Homo sapiens: one gene and its partners. The protein of the gene in region 2 purifies or fractionates together with the protein of the main gene of each other region. This does not show direct contact. Each region holds a gene or a part of one and is shown on either strand. Other genes may lie near its edges.

Evidence for each region. The genes of interacting proteins can lie anywhere in the genome.
Region 1: the proteins of ITM2A (region 2) and ATP7A purify together in Homo sapiens (affinity purification with mass spectrometry; 2 studies listed by BioGRID and IntAct, with this or other methods). This does not show direct contact.
Region 3: the proteins of ITM2A (region 2) and RSPRY1 purify together in Homo sapiens (affinity purification with mass spectrometry; 2 studies listed by BioGRID and IntAct, with this or other methods). This does not show direct contact.

The regions. Positions count from the first base shown.
Region 1 is NC_000023.11:78,039,639-78,046,692, reverse strand, and holds part of ATP7A (copper-transporting ATPase 1), read right to left. Parts: intron 6,103-7,054; coding exon 5,960-6,102; intron 4,109-5,959; coding exon 3,905-4,108; intron 3,377-3,904; coding exon 3,259-3,376; intron 1,224-3,258; coding exon 1,121-1,223; intron 400-1,120; coding exon 123-399; 3' UTR 1-122. UniProt on the Homo sapiens protein: ATP-driven copper (Cu(+)) ion pump that plays an important role in intracellular copper ion homeostasis.
Region 2 is NC_000023.11:79,364,335-79,371,972, reverse strand, and holds the start of ITM2A (integral membrane protein 2A), read left to right. Parts: upstream 1-4,638; 5' UTR 4,639-4,757; coding exon 4,758-4,868; intron 4,869-7,638.
Region 3 is NC_000016.10:57,238,275-57,240,969, forward strand, and holds the end of RSPRY1 (RING finger and SPRY domain-containing protein 1 isoform 1 precursor), read left to right. Parts: intron 1-604; coding exon 605-701; 3' UTR 702-2,195; downstream 2,196-2,695.

The DNA of each region.
Region 1 (7,054 bases), 1.3 Mb from region 2:
TAGAATCCCTAATATAAGAGCATGAGAAAAATCCTTCTACAATATTTTGAAAAGTGAAGGTAACATCATGAATGCTGTGTCAGTGCATGACAAGTTAAACTGGCAGCACTCTCCATGGCCTTTTATAATGCAGTGTCATCATCTTCCCTGAAGTCTCCCACCAGGAGTGAGTGCTTGTCAGGTTCACTGGTAACAACACTGTTTAGGGAGCGTTTATCAGACAGTAGTGAGTTTATAGAGGCTCTGCTATAATTAACAATCCGGTCCAGCAAACCCAGTTTAGGAGAATTCCTTGAGGTATCATCTATTCCAACATGAACGCTGATTTCTGAAGGACTCTTCTGTCCTATCTGGCTCCGGGCAGGCAGTTCATAACTCTCGTAAGTTGGTTTCCTGTAACTGGACATATGCAAAAGTATGCTAGTTTCAAATAACCAAAAGTAAATGAGATGCTCGCTACATGCAGAAAAGAAAGAAGATTTGCTCATCCACACTTAGTTTTGGTATGAAATGTATAAAGGTGATCACTGGTAGGAAAATAGCTTGAAACGAATTGTGTGGAGTTATATCATCAGAAACCCTACTTCTCAGAATTAGTGCACTATATTTTATCCCACTCAGTGCTTGTGGTTGCTATGCATAAAGTACACGAAGTAACAATTACATAGCTAATTATTACTGTTAGCTAATAATAATTCTTTTCTTTTTTTGAGATGGAATCTCACTCTGTTGCCTAGGCTGGAGTGCAGTGGCACGATCTCAGCTCACTGCAACCTCCACCTCCCAGGTTCAAGTGATTCTCCTGCCTCAGCCTCCCGAGTAGCTGAGATTACAGGTGTCTACCACCATGCCCAGCTAATTTTTGTATTTCTAGTAGACATAGGGTTTCACCATATTGGCCAGACTGGTCTCAAATTACTGACCTCAGGTGATCTGCCCACCTCGGCCTCCCAAAGTGCTGGGATTACAGGTGTGAGCCACCACGCCCGGCCGCTAATAATAATTCTCATTAAGAATGGTTTGGGCTTATCATTGATCAATACAAGAATAAAACCTACCAAGAATGACTAGATGATAACAGGAATACAAAATACAAATGTGAGCAAGCTATCATACTTACAGTTTAAGGAAGAGAGAAGAAAGTACTACAGAAACAGATGAAGCAGCCATTGCTGCAGATCCCATCCAGGGCTGCAAAACCAAACCAATGGGCATAAAAACTCCTAAGAAACAAGTATGGATTAGTTAGAGTAGATAATACTAAACAGATTATTAATGTGTTTCTAACATACATACAAATCATTTCTTTGTTTGATACTTCTTCAGCATTTATCCTCTTGGTGGTAGAGATTTTTGTTGTTGCCATTTTTTTCACTAACAGAGTGTTGCTGTTAACATTCTTGTACATGTCTCCCCGTGTCCATGTTTGAGAGTTTCTGTGGGGTATATACCTAGGGGTGAAACTACTGGGTCATAACATGGGCACATCTTCAACTTTACGTGGATATTCCTCAGCTGTTCTCCAAAGTGGCTGTAGTGATTCAAAATCCAACCAATAGCGTATGGGAGTTCATGTTCTACAAACTCATCCACACTTGGTTTTCACAGACATAAGAATGTTTGCTCACATGATGAGGATGAAATAGACTCATACTTTTAACTTTTTATGTGCTTCTTTATATTTTTCTACTTTTTCTATGGTGATCATATATTACTTGTATAATTATTTAAAAATCACTTGCTCCATGAATTAATCTTACTGGACTTAGATTGTTCTTTTGTTCTTTGTTCTCTCAGTATTTGTGTGTCCTTGCTGATAAACAGTTTTGTAATTGTTCTCATGTCATTTCTTGTCTTTCCTTGGCCCTCAAACCAGAGAGAACAAGAAGAAAACAATACTTATTTCTTTTATGTCATCATTACTAACTCCTACCAGGTCCCTAAGTTTAGGAGATTCTCAGATGCTTATTAAATAACTCTAAATTCTTTTTTCTCAGTTATATTGCTTTGTTCACTCTCTCTGTCATCTGGTCTCTCAACCTAAAAAAAATACCAGCTGACTATAATAGAATATTAAGTGAAGAGCAGAAAATTCTCCATAAGCTACAATCACAACTATGTAACAAGACAAAAACTGATGTAGAGTAAAAAAAAGACTAGAGGAAAATACTTGTATAATTCTTTAAAAATCATTTGCTCCATGAATTAATCTTGCAAACAGTGTTGGGTTTGGGTAGTCAGATTAAAGGTAAATCTATTTAGAAAAAAATTAATAAGCAAACAAATACATATCTCTGTGCAAATATATGCAGAAAGAGATGAAGCAATGTGGCAAAATACCATCAGTTGGTGAGTTTAGGTGAAAGGCATACAGATTTTTATTGTACCATTTTTTTCAATGTTTTTGGAGGTATGAATTTTTTTTTTTTTTTTTTTTGGAGACGGAGTTTCGCTCTTGTTGCCCAGGCTGAAGTGCGATGGCGCGATCTTGGCTCACCACAACCTCCACCTCTTGGGTTCAAGCGAGTCTACTGCCTCCGTCTCCCGAGTAGCTGGGATTACATGCATGTGCCACCACGCCCGGCTAATTTTGTATTTTTAGTAGAGACGGGGTTTCTCCATGTTGGTCAGGCTGGTCTTGAACTCCCAACCTCAGGTGATCCGCCCACCTCAGCCTCCCAAAGTGCTGGGATTACAGGTGTCAAGTTTGAAATTTTTCAAAATACAAAGTTGAAGGCTGGGAGTGGTGGCTCACAGCTGTAATCCCAACACTTTGGGAGGCCGAGGTGGGTGGATTACCTGAAGTCAGGAGTTCGAGACCAGCCTGGCCAACATGGAGAAACCCCGTCTATACTAAAAATACAAAAATTAGTTGGGCGTTGTGGCGGGCACCTATAGTCCCAGTTACTCAGGAGGCTGAGGCAGGAGAACTGCTTGAACCCAGGAGATGGAGGCTGCAGTGAGCCGAGATTGTATGACTGCACTCCAGCCTGGGCAACAGAGTGAGACTCTGTCTCAAAAAAAAAAAAAAAAAAGTTGGAGGGAAAAAAATAAATCTGTCAGAATGCTTATATATTCTTAAGCTATAACAAACATTACTGAAAATTAAAATGATTGATTTTAACATTACCTCTCACCATACCAGTAGGCTACAAACAAAAACTAAGCTCAAAACTAATAGTAAGAAGACAGGCTTCCAATATGTTAGGTCTCTAATAACTTTAGTGGAAAAAGCAGTACTAGTTAAGAGTCACATACCAGCAGCTATGGGAATTCCAACCAGATTATAAATTAGAGCAAAGACAAAATTTATCCGAATCCTCTTGACTGTCTTTCTTGATAAGTCAATACTTGCCACTACATCCAGAAGATCATTCTAAGAACAGAAATATTTGTGATATTAGTAAGAGACTCTAACTTAACCAGTAACTTTTACATTTGATACTGTGTATGTTGAAGATTACGTCTACCTTAGGGTAATATGTGAATTAATTACAAATCTCAGATAATGCTAAAACTTAGACTCAGCTTCCGAAGGTGTTTTTCAAAAATTTTCCTCAGGGTTCTGAAAACACTTTTAGGGGTGTATGCTGGTACTATGATTAAATCTACTTAAAATAATCTCAGCAACTATTTGTTGAAGATCATTTTATTCCGAATCCATTCTTAAATCTTCTTCTTCACTTCAGAAACTTATAATTCTCACTTGCTTATGAGCTGGGTTGAGAAAGTCAGGGGGTAAATTAGCATGACTTCCCATAATCCCACTCCATATTCTTAAACTCTTAATGGCTGATAGCATGGAACTTAAGACAGAATTGTTATGCTCAATATACTTTATGACATTATCATTGACCACATAGGGCAGTCTCATACTCCTCAAAGGTCAAGCCATGGCACTTACCCTTATCAAAACCACATCAGCTGCTTCAATGGCTACATCTGTGCCTGTGCCAATAGCAATTCCCACATTAGCCATTGCCAGAGCTGGGGAGTCATTGATTCCATCTCCCACCATTGCTACCCGTTTCCCCTCCTCTTGAAGTTGCTTCACTTTAGCAACCTTGTGAGAAGGTAGAACTTCAGCAAACACCTTAGTAATGCCAACCTATGTGATGAAAATAAACTCAATTCATTTAAAAAATAATGAGTACGTGAAACATAACTGAGCAATAACAAGCCATCAGTTTTCACCCACAAGATGTCCACATTTTAAAAGACTGATAATATCTAGTGATAGCAAGGATGTGGAGAAATGAGCTCTCTTATACACCAGTGGCTGGTGTGTAAATTGTAACTCTTTTTGGAGGGCATCTGGCAGCATCTATCAAAATGTGAGCATCATTTGGTCTAGCAATTCCATGTCTAGCTCTATCTTGGACAGGCTTGCACATGTACAGAAAGATACATGTCCAAAGATGTTTATTATTGCCTTGTTTGCAAAAAGAAAATTTTCAAAACCACCCAAATGTCCATCATTAGGGAAATGGTTAAATAAATTATGATACATCCATACCATGGAATTCAGTATAGAAAGAATAAAGTAACTTTGTAACTTTTTTTTTTTTTTTTTTTTGAGACAGAGTCTTGCTCTGTCACCCAGGCTGGAGTGCAATGGTACCATCTCGGCTCACTGCAACCTCCGCCTCCTGGTTCAAGCGATTCTCCTGCCTCAGCCTCCTGAGTAGCTGGGATTACAGGCATGCGCCACCACACCCGGCTAATTTTTGTATTTTTAGTAGAGACAAGGTTTCACCATGCTGGCCAGGCTGGTCTCAAACTCCCGACCTCATGTGATCTGCCCACTTCAGCCTCCCAAAGTGCTGGGATTACAGGCGTGAGCCAACAAACCCGGCCAAAATAACTTTATGTTCAGATATGGATGAAGCTCCAAAGTATACTGTTACGTAAAAAAAGCAAACTACTGAACAATCTGTTCAAAATGATCTGATGTTGAAAAGACCAGAATTATACTGTATATGTACTCTGTATATGCACATATATGCATATGAAAAAGTGGCAGTGTGAGGGGCAGTAGGACTGAATGGGGAGCATGGGGAAAAGAGGACATTTTTACTTTATATCCTTCTGTATTTTTTACATAAGAAGGTGTTAATAGGCCGGGTGCGGTGGCTCACACGTGTAATCCCAGCACTTTGGGAGGCCGAGGCGGGCGGATCACCTGAGGTCCGAAGTTCACGACCAGCTTGACCAACATGGAGAAACCCTGTCTCTACTAAAAATACAAAATTAGCCGGGCGTGGTGGTGTATGCATGTAATCCTAGCTACTCGGGAGGCTGAGGCAAGAGAATCGCTTGAACCCAGGAGGTGGAGGTTGCGATGAGCCGAGATCGCGCCACTGCACTTCAGCCTGGGCAACAAGAGCGAAACTCCGTCCCAAGAAAAAAAAAAGAAACAAAAGAATGTATTAAAAGATTACTTGCATTATTTATTAGAAGAGGGGAGAAGGCATTCCAAAGTTAAAAAGATTGAAAAATTTTAGAGATAAGGCAGATGTGGGAGTCAGGAGCAGAAAAATGGTATGTCAAAGTGGTGCATTAGGAAAATAGTTCCATTGGTGGTGGTATTTAGGATGGACTAGAGAGGGATGTGTGTGGAGCTATTGCTGTGTTTCAGGCATGAGATCAGGAGAGCCCAGCTTAGGTTGGCAGCACTGGTAAAGAATATGAGCAACATTTCAAAGGGCACATCAACAGAAATTGGTGTACAGTGTCACGCAAGCATCCCATGAACTAAGCAAATACCTTTTTACGTATAACAGCAACACACAAAGCCCAAAGTCTTTCCAGCAAAGCATGGTAAATTTTCTTGAAGGAACCAGATAGGACTACTCAGTGATAATGAAAATAGTAGGTAATGTAAATTTCTTAGCATTTGAAGGCAAGATATAAAATGTATATCAATAATTAGAAGTTATCACATACCCCTATCAATTACCTGAGAAGCAATAGATCTAGCTGTTTTACTGTTGTCTCCAGTCATCAGAACTACTTCTAAGCCCATAGATTTCAGAATATGGATAGCCAGTTCTGCTTCAGGCTTCACTGTGTCTGCAATGGCTATCAAGCCACACAGCTCATCTAATATAGGGGCAGCACAAAATAAAAGAACTTGGAATATAGTGAAAGGAGAATAACATTTTGACTTGAAATTTCAGAATGAAATGAATTTTCTCAAGTAAAGTTGTTCAGGGCATGGCTTAACTTAAAATATCTCTAAGCCCACACAGACTTTATACTACAAACTCTGTAACAAGCCTCCATATTTGGTTATGAAAATTTCAGAGTGAGGTAGGGGTTACTAATAAAGTAATCACAGGAAAATAAAAAGAGAGACCTTACTGGATATTAGAAGACCCTTTTTGTTCCTCAGAAAGGTATTTGCCAACAGCCTCAAACACTTTATCTAATTTATAGGCAAATGAAACTGAAGATTAATACTTTTTTTCTTTTTAAGGTAAGGGGGGGGGGGCAGAGAGAGACAAAATGGGCACTTTATAGTGGGAAAAATATTACCATAAATCTTATTATTTTATTCTATTTACAAAACAAAAGTAAAATGGTATTCTCTGCTTCTTCCCAGACCTAAAAAGGCCATAGTAAAAGACTGCCTTCATACTTAGCAGACATTATAAATGTAGAGTGGAATTAATCTCACAACTAGAAATTTACCCTAAGAAATAACAAAATAAAGCACATACAACCTCAAAGATATTTATTGTAGTGTCATTTACAATAGTGAAATATTAGGAATAGCCTAAATTTCCAACAAGAGGGGAATGATTATAGTGTGTAAGATTGATAAATTATGCAGTATTATAGTAAAATTATATAGCAACATTAGAAAGCATTAAGTAAAATAAAGCATAATAAAATAGTATGTGTACAAGTGATTTTAACTTTATTGAGGTAAAATTTACTTACGATAAAATGTACCCAGTAAAAAATGGTATATGTACTAATACTGTAATTCTGCAAACACACACACATTTCAAGAAAACTAGGAATGGAATATACAAAATTAAAACTGACG
Region 2 (7,638 bases):
TGGTTTAACAATCATATATAAAAAATGCAAGTGCCTGTGCTTTTATTGAATGGGAACCTAACTCTGAAGCTGTCACAAAGACAGCTTACTATCACTTGGTGCTATAGTATGGAGCAACTGAACCAACTGGGTATTCGCAAAAGCATTACTGGCACTAGATTTGAGTTTCTCACTTGCATTTCTCAGAACTAGAGTTCTCATAAGACCTTTCAGATAGCTATTTTAAAAGTCCCCAAAGATAGTCTAAGATGAGATTAGAAATTTTACACAATTTAGAAAGGTGCATTGAAAGTGCAAACATTTTTATCAGATGTACTTGGTTGTTCTATGTGGCAAAAAAGCAAAGTGATTTTTATAAATTAGGGTGGCACACAACTTCTCAACCTCGAATATATAACCACATCATTGTGATGGGATGATGGAATCTTTTCTCATATTTAAGAAAATGTTACATCCTCCTATTATCATAGCATACTCAGTCTACAGAGAAAACGTTAAATGGCCTGGAGAAACAATAATCTATTCCAGAAAGCAAATGCCTTCTATTACTTTCACTGGGGAGCACTAGCTCTGCTCCCAGGATCAAGCTATGTGTACAGGGAAAGAGTGGACCTGGAAAATAGCCTGGCTCTTTAAAGATCTAAACCAAACTTTTGGAATTATACCCAGAAACAGATGGCTGGCCAGCTCTCTGTGTAGCTGCTTCATTGTTGACAGAAGCAACTGGAGAACTCAGAAGAAATATGCTTTAGGATCAGTAGCCTATAGTCATGGGTAGGCTGGGAAAGTCTTAAGAAGGTTTCAAACGTGGTTAGTCCTGAATAAAATTCTAAGCAGGAATTTCTGTTTGCAGTATGGGGAGGAGATTCATGCTTCATGCCCTAGAGAATATTCTGATTATTTTCTCCTGCTTTAAAACCAGCTCTCTTCTTGATTTTCCCATTTCTTTTTGTGGCAGTAAGACAATATAGTGGCTAAGAATATAAACACTGACTACCTGGGTTAGAATTTGACCTTAAGCAAGTTATCTAACCTCTTGGAAATTCAGTGTCTCTATCAGTGCAATGAAGTATATAATAATACTTCACAGAGTTGTGGTAAAGATTAAATGACATAATCAATTTAAAGGGCTTAGCGCAGAAATCTGGCATTTACTGTGTTCAACAAATGTTTCATATTAAGGGCACTACCATTTTCCCAGTCTGGAATTCCCATTCATTCAAAACAAAATCTTTTTTTTTTCTAATGTTTCTCCTTCATATGACTTATTCCAGCAGCAGGCCTTGTAAAGAATGGCTCCTAGACTTCTTTGGAAGTTGTTCTTTTGTTTTCAGTGTTTCAATTATCAATATAGTTCACCACCTGTCACCAGGAATATAGACGAGCACCCCCAACTGGTTTCCCAATACATTTGCTGTCAGATTAATCTTCCTAAATAGAGTGCTGCATGTGAAGCCATTGCAAATGTGCTAGTCATTTAAATATTCCTAGTAGCATTGGCTGTGGGTGGACCTATTCTGCTGGTTTGTAGAATTGTTATATCCTACTCCACAGCATAAGCCCAGTGTTCCTACTACAAAAACTGGAGAACCCACGACAAGTACATCATTGCCATTGGTATAGTAATGATGCGCTCTGTAAGGACAAGAGTGTATCTGTTTTGCTCACCACTGTATTCTTATGCCAATCACAGCACAAGGCACATAGTAGATCCTCAGTAAATATTTGATTAATGAATACATGAGTTAATGGGTGAAATGGTATTATAGATACCCTTATTGGTTTAGCTTTATGTGATTGCATTTGTGGTAATTTCAGAAGATCATTCAAAGAAAGTTGACATCATTGCTTGGCATTCAATTACATGCCATGTTCCATTCAGACCAACTTATGATAATTTAGTCATCATTTGGCATGTGAGAACAGGGAAGTCATTTATAAACTTGAATGGTATGCATTCAGATGTAGTTAACAATGTGAGCTAGAATCAGCATAGCAGCCAGATCCCCATTTTCCAAAGACAAGAAAGTGAGAGAAATTGATTCTAGAAAAAAAGAAATTGTTACTGGGAAGGAGAGAATACAAGAAAGAGCCTAGCGGAGAATCATTTTTTTTAGTAGACGGAAGTGTGTTCATTACTGATTTCAACCCTAGGAGCAAGTGGCAGCTTATATTTTGCAGTTCAAAAAATATTCAGGAACTATTTAACCTTCCTGGAATGGATACAGACAATGGGTGTTGTTGCTATTCTATGATCCTAACACAAGTATTATTTTATATATTGAGAAGGAAACTGTGGTATCTGCCAATGTGAGACTGTGCCTGCATCACATATGTCCAACGGTAGCAAAGACCCATACCTAAAAGAGGATGCGTTGTTAACAAATAGGAGATGGCCAAATTCTTCAAAATCCAAAAGAGAAGTTAGATGTCAATTTATGTGACTATTCTTAGAAGTTTAACCTTTTCCAGTAAGACCTATATTCAGGTACTGTGGGATCTTAAGCAGTTCTAGAATGTTAAGAATGGTTGAAGGGTAAATAATAAGAAGAATAATTCTTATAAGCTTGAAACATGCGTATGTTACAGAATAAAATAACAATCCCAGGATAACAAAACATTTCACTCCCTATCCTTTTCATAATAATTTAAAAGGTATTTCCTCTTGCATTATACCAAATAATCCTCACAGCAACAGGACACAAATGAAGAAACTGACATCTGAGAAGACGAAGTGACTTGCTCAATATTATGTACCCAGAAATTGATCACATACTCCCTTGATCGTTATCATAATTTTGATCTATTCATCTGAAAAAATGAAAAGAATCCCTCTCCTTCTGCCCGACCCCATTTCAGGAAAGATATACTAAGATAATACATCACAATCCCGCCCAGAACCTTGCACTTACTAAGTAAATGTGCAAGAGCAACCATGAGTGTGGATCACCGGGCCAGACTAGCACAGACCATAGTGGAGATGTCACAAAGGTGATTGCAAGCGGAAGGCAACTGTAAAGAGAAACATTCTAGGAAGGTGAGAGTTCCTCAGCTTACACTAAAGGTTGCCTGATAAATATTAAATTATAATGGTCAATCTTGAGCAATAATAAGTGAAAGAACATAGGATGCCAATATTTCTAAGCAAACTCAAACATCCTGCTTTTTAAGATTCTGGCCCTAAGTAAGGCACAGGCTCCCCGCTGTTCCCCTCCATCCACCTTCCCATCTGTGGCCTATCCAAGAAAATGAATGCTGTCTTCACAAAGGTCCCACAGTGGAAACAGGAGACAGGCTTCTGAGTCAAGGAAACATCAGTGGGAAAAACGCCAAGTTGGAATTTTTCGGATGAAGGGGTGGCGACTCAACATATTTAAGTCCGTTTCTTAGGTAGATGAGTAGATGGTAAATTCTGTAGCAAAAGCTGTTTCTTTGTTTTGTTTTGTTTGATGCTGTTGTTTTGGTAAGTGCTACTGTCTTCACACAACAGACCTTTCTCCTGTCTTCTGCAGCGGGACTATTTATAAACTGTGTACCAGTGCTACCCCAGTCAGCAACCTCCAAAGCCTGCATTGTACTTGGTAAGGTTCTCTATCAGTATCACTAACCTGGAAAAACTGACTGTGAAGAAACAGCTTGATTATACTGGCTGCACATGTAAATGTTCCAAGAATAATTTCTAACTCAACCCCTTTGAAGTTATTGTTTTTTCCTCCATTAGATCGGTATTAGCATCTGGCTAAATTTTGTATCCTCCACCTCCACCTCCACCTTCCTGAACACATAAGTACTTATACACACACACACACACACACACACACACACACACGTTTTTTTTTTCCCCCTGCAGGTTTCACAGCTGGTGGCTGAACAGAAACAGTCTCTGGGTTGAGACTTTACACTGGTTTCCCTGACCTGGAAGAGTGAAAAATCTAGATTATTTCAGGAATTTATTGTAAGCTTTCCACCCTTCTCTGTCTCATCATGTCTTATCTACAAAATGGGGTGTTGGGGAGGCAGGAGCCCTATCTTTCTGATCTAGCATCGCCTTAGGTTGAGATATTAAAATTTCAAAACACAAGCAAGCAAATAAAAAAAATAACAATTTGTTGAAAGAATCAACTGGGTAACTATAAACAGGATTCTAGGTGTCCTTTAAAAGGAAGATATTATTATCAAGGAACAGAACCTTTGTAGAATGGCGCTTTGGGGGCCTGGGTGGGTCCAGAACTAAGGAAGTTTGAGTTACTGCCAAGCTACAGTCCCAGGCCCTGCGGGGAGTCAGGTCCAAGTTTGAGAAAACAGTCATAGTCAGGGGCTATTGTGGCCTGGACAGAGGCAGAAAGACACGACACAGCAGGCTTCCTTCCTGTCTTGCTCTTATCTGAAGTTGCAGAGAGTGGGTGGGAGTATGCCTGAGGTGCAGGTGAGGCACGTTTAGCCTGAGCCGGCCACGGACTCCACTTCCCCTGCTCTTCCCCCAGTGGCAAATCCGCGCCACCTCGCAAACCCCCAACTCAGGCACTTGGGCCCCTTTTGGGCCCCCTCTCGCTCCTCCCTTTAGGCACCTCCCTGGGCCCGCCCACGGTCTCCCCCCAGTTTGGGACTGCGTCATAAGTATCCCAGACCTCGGCTTGCAGTAGTGTTAGACTGAAGATAAAGTAAGTGCTGTTTGGGCTAACAGGATCTCCTCTTGCAGTCTGCAGCCCAGGACGCTGATTCCAGCAGCGCCTTACCGCGCAGCCCGAAGATTCACTATGGTGAAAATCGCCTTCAATACCCCTACCGCCGTGCAAAAGGAGGAGGCGCGGCAAGACGTGGAGGCCCTCCTGAGCCGCACGGTCAGAACTCAGATACTGACCGGCAAGGTAGCTGTCCCAGGGCGGGATGGGGGAGGGGTGGGCGAAAGAAAGAAGGCTGGTAGCAGAGGAGAAAATGTAGCTTCCCTGGGAGGGCCCCTCTTGCTCCTCTTACGCTGTCTCTGGGGTTTACCCGGTCGCCTCGGTTCTGTCTCCTTGCGGCACCTTCTGCTTACCGCACCCTCTGTCACTCTGCATTCCCGCGTGTCGTGCCATGTTCTGTCTGTTCCAGCTCACACCAGCTGTCCTGGAGGGAGGTCAGAGAGAGTTTGAGGAGATGCCCTGGGACTCCTTGTCATTGTCTCTTGGGTAACGTGTAGGGACCTGGGGATCAAGGAGGGGCATGTCGCCCAGTCCCCACCTCCAGGGGCGCGCATAGTCTCCCCAGGGACAGAGGGGACACAGGGGGGTGAGCAAGACCGGGAGATTTAACATTTCTTTCTTTCCTTTTGGTGTGGATGAAGTTCTAAGACTAAATCTTTCTATGATCTCTGAGTGTTCGTGGAGGTGGGGTGAGCAGCAAAGGGCACTTTTAACTCCAAGCAGTATGGGTTGGGGCAAGTGGTCTGCTTGAGCGCGCGAATATTTTCCGTTTCTCTCTGGTCATAGGTGGCTTTAAACATTAGATAAAGAAGCTGTCAAAATTGAGGTGGATCTTAATGCCAGTGTTGGGTGTTCACTGTGCCCTTTTACTGCAAGAGCCTTGTATATTTTTAGAGTGGTATTTCCTAAAGAAAACACTCTTCTCTTGTAAAAATAAATTTGAGGATACTTTTCAATTATTTTTAAATTTTTTTCTTGTTGAACAACATCCCCTTCCCTCTATTTAGAGATCTGAAGCAGGTCCAGTGTTGTAATTTAAACTACTAGCTTTGACAGGAACTGGGGAAGCTCTTCCCCAAAATGTTATCCATTATTTATTTAGTCCTATTTCTACTTCTTTTAAACACCTACTATGTTTTCAGGGTTCGTATACTACTCCTCAGTATAATCTCAATTTTAAAGGGCAATAGTATTGTCTTCGTGTTCTATGAAATCTGGAAAGTGTTGGCGCTTGCAGATCTGTCCTGACTTGTCTTGTTCTCTATATAGTTTTAACTTCTGTGTTCAAAGTGGAGATATAAAAAGTCCTTTGAGTTAAATGAGAATCCATGTAGTAAAAGTTGATTGTACACACAATTTGAAATGTTAATGTGCTTATCCAGCTTTTTATTATGGAAACTTTCAATATTAAATCCTGCAGTAAAACTAGCTTTTGTGTGTTATACATTTTAGAGCTCAAAAGTAACACCCTCTTGCATTGTTGAGGTTTTGATTAAATGACAGAGGTCAAATATGTAATTGTTCTCCTGCTTAGTTTGTAGGTTAAACATGGTCAGATTTTTTGGGAGGTCTAATTAGAGGCCAGTAGTTAAATATAGCCACACAGTAATCCTTTTTTTTTTTTTCTTCACCGCCAAGCATTTCATGACTTGTAGATAGATTCAGTTAATATGCAAGCAATACTTCTGCCAGGATTGTGGGTGCGATGAGGAATAAGCAAAACTGAGCATTTGCACTTTGATTATACTTTGCTGTTACGTTTTGGAGAAAACTTAACAGGATCCTTACCTGGCCACTATAGGACACTGATAATAATATTTGACATATTGTGTTGTAATACATTGATCAGCTAGCTCATTAGAGGTTGAGCATGACAAATATGATGTCAGACATAGTGTACAATCACTTCGAAAGAGTTCCAAGAGAAATTAGCTATGGTAATTGATGGCTCACACCAACCTAAAGTCCAATAAATGTAAATGAAAACAAAAAATCCTTATTTCTAGGATGTAACATCTTATGAAATTGAAATTCTAATACTTAGGCCTTGCTTAATAAACTTCCTGAATTATTGAAAGAATAAATGAAATTACAGTGCAAACTGTTCTTCTCATGTCTCAGTAGCAAGAAAAAATAAATTTATTTCTCTTAGAATTTCAAATTAAGCTATTATGTGACTTATGAGCAAGTTACTTTATCTTTATGAAACTCATTTTAGTCATCTAAAATATAATTTTAAGTCTCCAGTTCTAGATTATTGTACAGTAATTCCAAATCAAAATTTATAGTTCTATCTTTGTAGTGCTAATCTTAGTTTAGGTTTTTTTTTTTAATAAAAATAATTAAAAGTTCCTGAAAATTACTGGGACACAGAAAAGCCTTCAAGGTTTATAGAGTACTAATTAGTGGAGGGTTTGAACTTAAATAAATTTAGTTAAGAAAATGGGAATCTCAAATTTCTTTGACCTTCAAAGAAAAATATTTTTGGAAAAATAAACATTTAACAAATGATTGTCCTTTCATCTTCTGCATTAACTTGAAATCTATGCATTTGTTTTCACCAAATGAATTTAAGGTTAGTTAGCTCTGATAAACATTGCAGTAGTTGTCCTGAAAAAGAGCTAATGACCTAAAAGACTAAAACAATTCGATTTATATACACGTTTGAATGATTTACTCTTTAATGATCAGGGCCTAGATTTGCTTACTTCATTTATTCAGTCCTTGAGTAACAATGCTGCTTAGGATGTATTGTGACATACAAAAATGGGATTAGAAAGATTGGAGTCCACTGCCCTGGGAAGGGCACAATCAGTTGCTTGTTTGCTTTGGATCTTTCTTGTTTCAATCCCGAAGCAAAATATTGATTTAACAAAATATTACAGTCACTGTTACCACACAGACAACTTTTGTGTCTAGCTATCGCAAATGCTACACTTCAAAATCAAGTGTTTCA
Region 3 (2,695 bases), on a different chromosome or scaffold from region 2:
CAACATAAAAAGAGCAACATGATTTTTTTCTGGAACTTGACATGCTGATTTAAAAGTTTAAGGCAAGAAAATTCTGAAAGTTAGGGAGATGACAACCATACCACATCTTAAAATACATTAAAATAAATGTTAATAGTTTGGTCCCATTACTATATGACAAGAATGGCAGAATAATGGAATACAATAAAAGCCCAGAAATAGAACTAACTAAAAATGAAAATTTACCATATGACAAAGGCATTGTGTCAAAACTGTGGTGAAAGATGGACTGTTTGGTAAATGATTCTGGGATAAATGGCTAGCTTTCTGGGGAGAAATATTATATCCCTACCTATAAGTGCACATCTGTAAGTATATGCTGTGCACATATAGAGTGTCTGAAAGAATGCATATGAACTTTTTACTTGTTCCACAGACTAAGACAATTGAGGATCAGAAATGTAAGATTTACTTTTTATTTACATATTCATTTTTTTTAAACCATGTATAATTAGTAACCCTTTCAATGAACAAACTTGTTAACATTTTTGATTTAGTTGGCAGGCAGTTGGAGTTTGACCTTTTGAAGCATTAACTTGACTGACTTTTCTGTGTTTCTCCCCAGTGACCTGTGCATGGATTGTGCCTTGCAGCTGGAGACCTGCCCATTGTGTCGTAAAGAAATAGTATCTAGAATCAGACAGATTTCTCATATTTCATGACACATGTGAAGAGGCATCGTGGACTTTTTTCTACTCAATTCCAGCCAATGTTGAAAAGAAAAAGAAAAAAAAAACTCTCTAATCAGTTGTACACACATTGAAACTTATAGCCATGGCCAGATTTTATGCTAAAAATGGTAGTTTGTCAAAGACAAAATTCTCTTAGAATCTAATCCAACTTGCCAGCCCTGAGAAAATCCCTTTTAAGGCCAAGGAAAGCTGAATGCTAGCAGCCAGGCCTGTGGTACTTCCATGAGAAACCATAGCAGACAATGCCCTCCCAAGTACTGAAATCACACTGGAATCCCCCTTGTTGGGTTCATTTGATTGTTTAACACAGGATGTGTTGTGTCATTCTGAAGTTTTTATTTGGGGCAGAAGTCTTTATGGAGATGTAAATGACAGCGTTTCTGGGTTATGCATAACTTCTCACTGGTCAGAGACACCGGTGTGTCAAGCATGGATATTGCATTGCAAGACTTGAATCTATAAAAATTAGAATCACACAGTCAGTACTACAAGCAAAACAGAGAACCTGAAAGAAGGTGCACAGACTGTAAGAAAAAACCCAAGTTTGTGATATTTCAGTGATTCCAAAGAACATTCTAGGTTTTTTGTTTGTTTTTTTGTTTTTTGGGTTTTTTTTTTTTACTGCAGAAAATTGGTGGTATTTTCACATTCATAGTGTTTCTATCCAATTTCAGTACCCACATTTAATGAGGAAAAAATGTTTTACCAATGAAGGAGGAATTCTTAAATTAGCTGTAATGTTAGGTTGGAGAAAATTTGGTATTTAGGGTATTTTCAAGGTACCATCAAATCAGATTTCTGTTTTTTTGTTAAAAAAAATTTTTTTAATCAGTATTGTTTTTACAAGTAATATACTTTGAAACTCTTGAACTAATAGTCTCAAAAACTCTAGAGGACAGTCTGAGAACACGTATTTCTATTGTTCTAAATAAATACATGTTTTTGAATAGTTCAATCATGAATTATTGACTATGTCTTCATCAAAAGTGTTAATCCCTCTCAGGGTCTCTGGTGAAGACCTTCAAGAGTTTGGTTTTTTCTCCCAGGAAATTGGAAGGTAGAATTGTAAATTCATAGAACTTCTTTTATAATGGTGTACCTCAGCAGCTGCCTTTCAATTTATGCCAAGTCCTTACAGAGTTTATACTTGAATAGTAAATATGTCTTCTGAGTTTTACAGTGTCTTAAACTCAATGCACATTTTTTTTTCTTCTTTTTCCACCCCTTCTTGTTTGTAGTTCATTATACCTGTCCTATTACAGAACTGATTTCCTTCCTGGCTGTACATGTTGGGGTGCTGGATTTTTTTCCGTGTCTTTAGTCTTCCATAAATCCACACACACACACACACACAAAAAATATATATATATATAAATATATATGTAGGATACATGTTCTCTTCTTTAGCTTGTGGTGAATACAGTAATTTGCATTGAAGAATAAAACATCTGTTGCCTTTTTTGACTAAGATTTCACAACTTTCATTGGTGTATACTGCTAAGGTTCCAAGACATTATACTCTCAGACTTTAAGGGCTACTTTTGGGAGTAGGAGAGAATCAAGTATTAGAATTAAGAATAAGGCCACTTACTCATCCAGCAGATTGTTATTGAGCACCTAATATGTGCTGGGCACTGTGCCTATGTGGCATACAAAATATGCTTGTAGAGCTTATGTCTAATAAGCTTGTCTAATTATTGTCTATTATTATGTCTAACAGTAATTTGGAAGTGGTCCAGCTGAGACTAAAGGTAGTCTGTACATTTAGTAGAGAGAGGGAAAAATAGATGGAATTAATAGATAATTTGCGAGGCAAAGGAATGCAGGAGCCTAACAGCTTTCTAAAAATCTACCCTTGAAGTTTGTTCCTAAGGTGGGGAGAAGACAATATATTTGTGTTTATTGTAACAGATTTTTAGTGGAAAAGAATAGGGTCCTAGAGAGAATGAGGGGGACCTAATTTA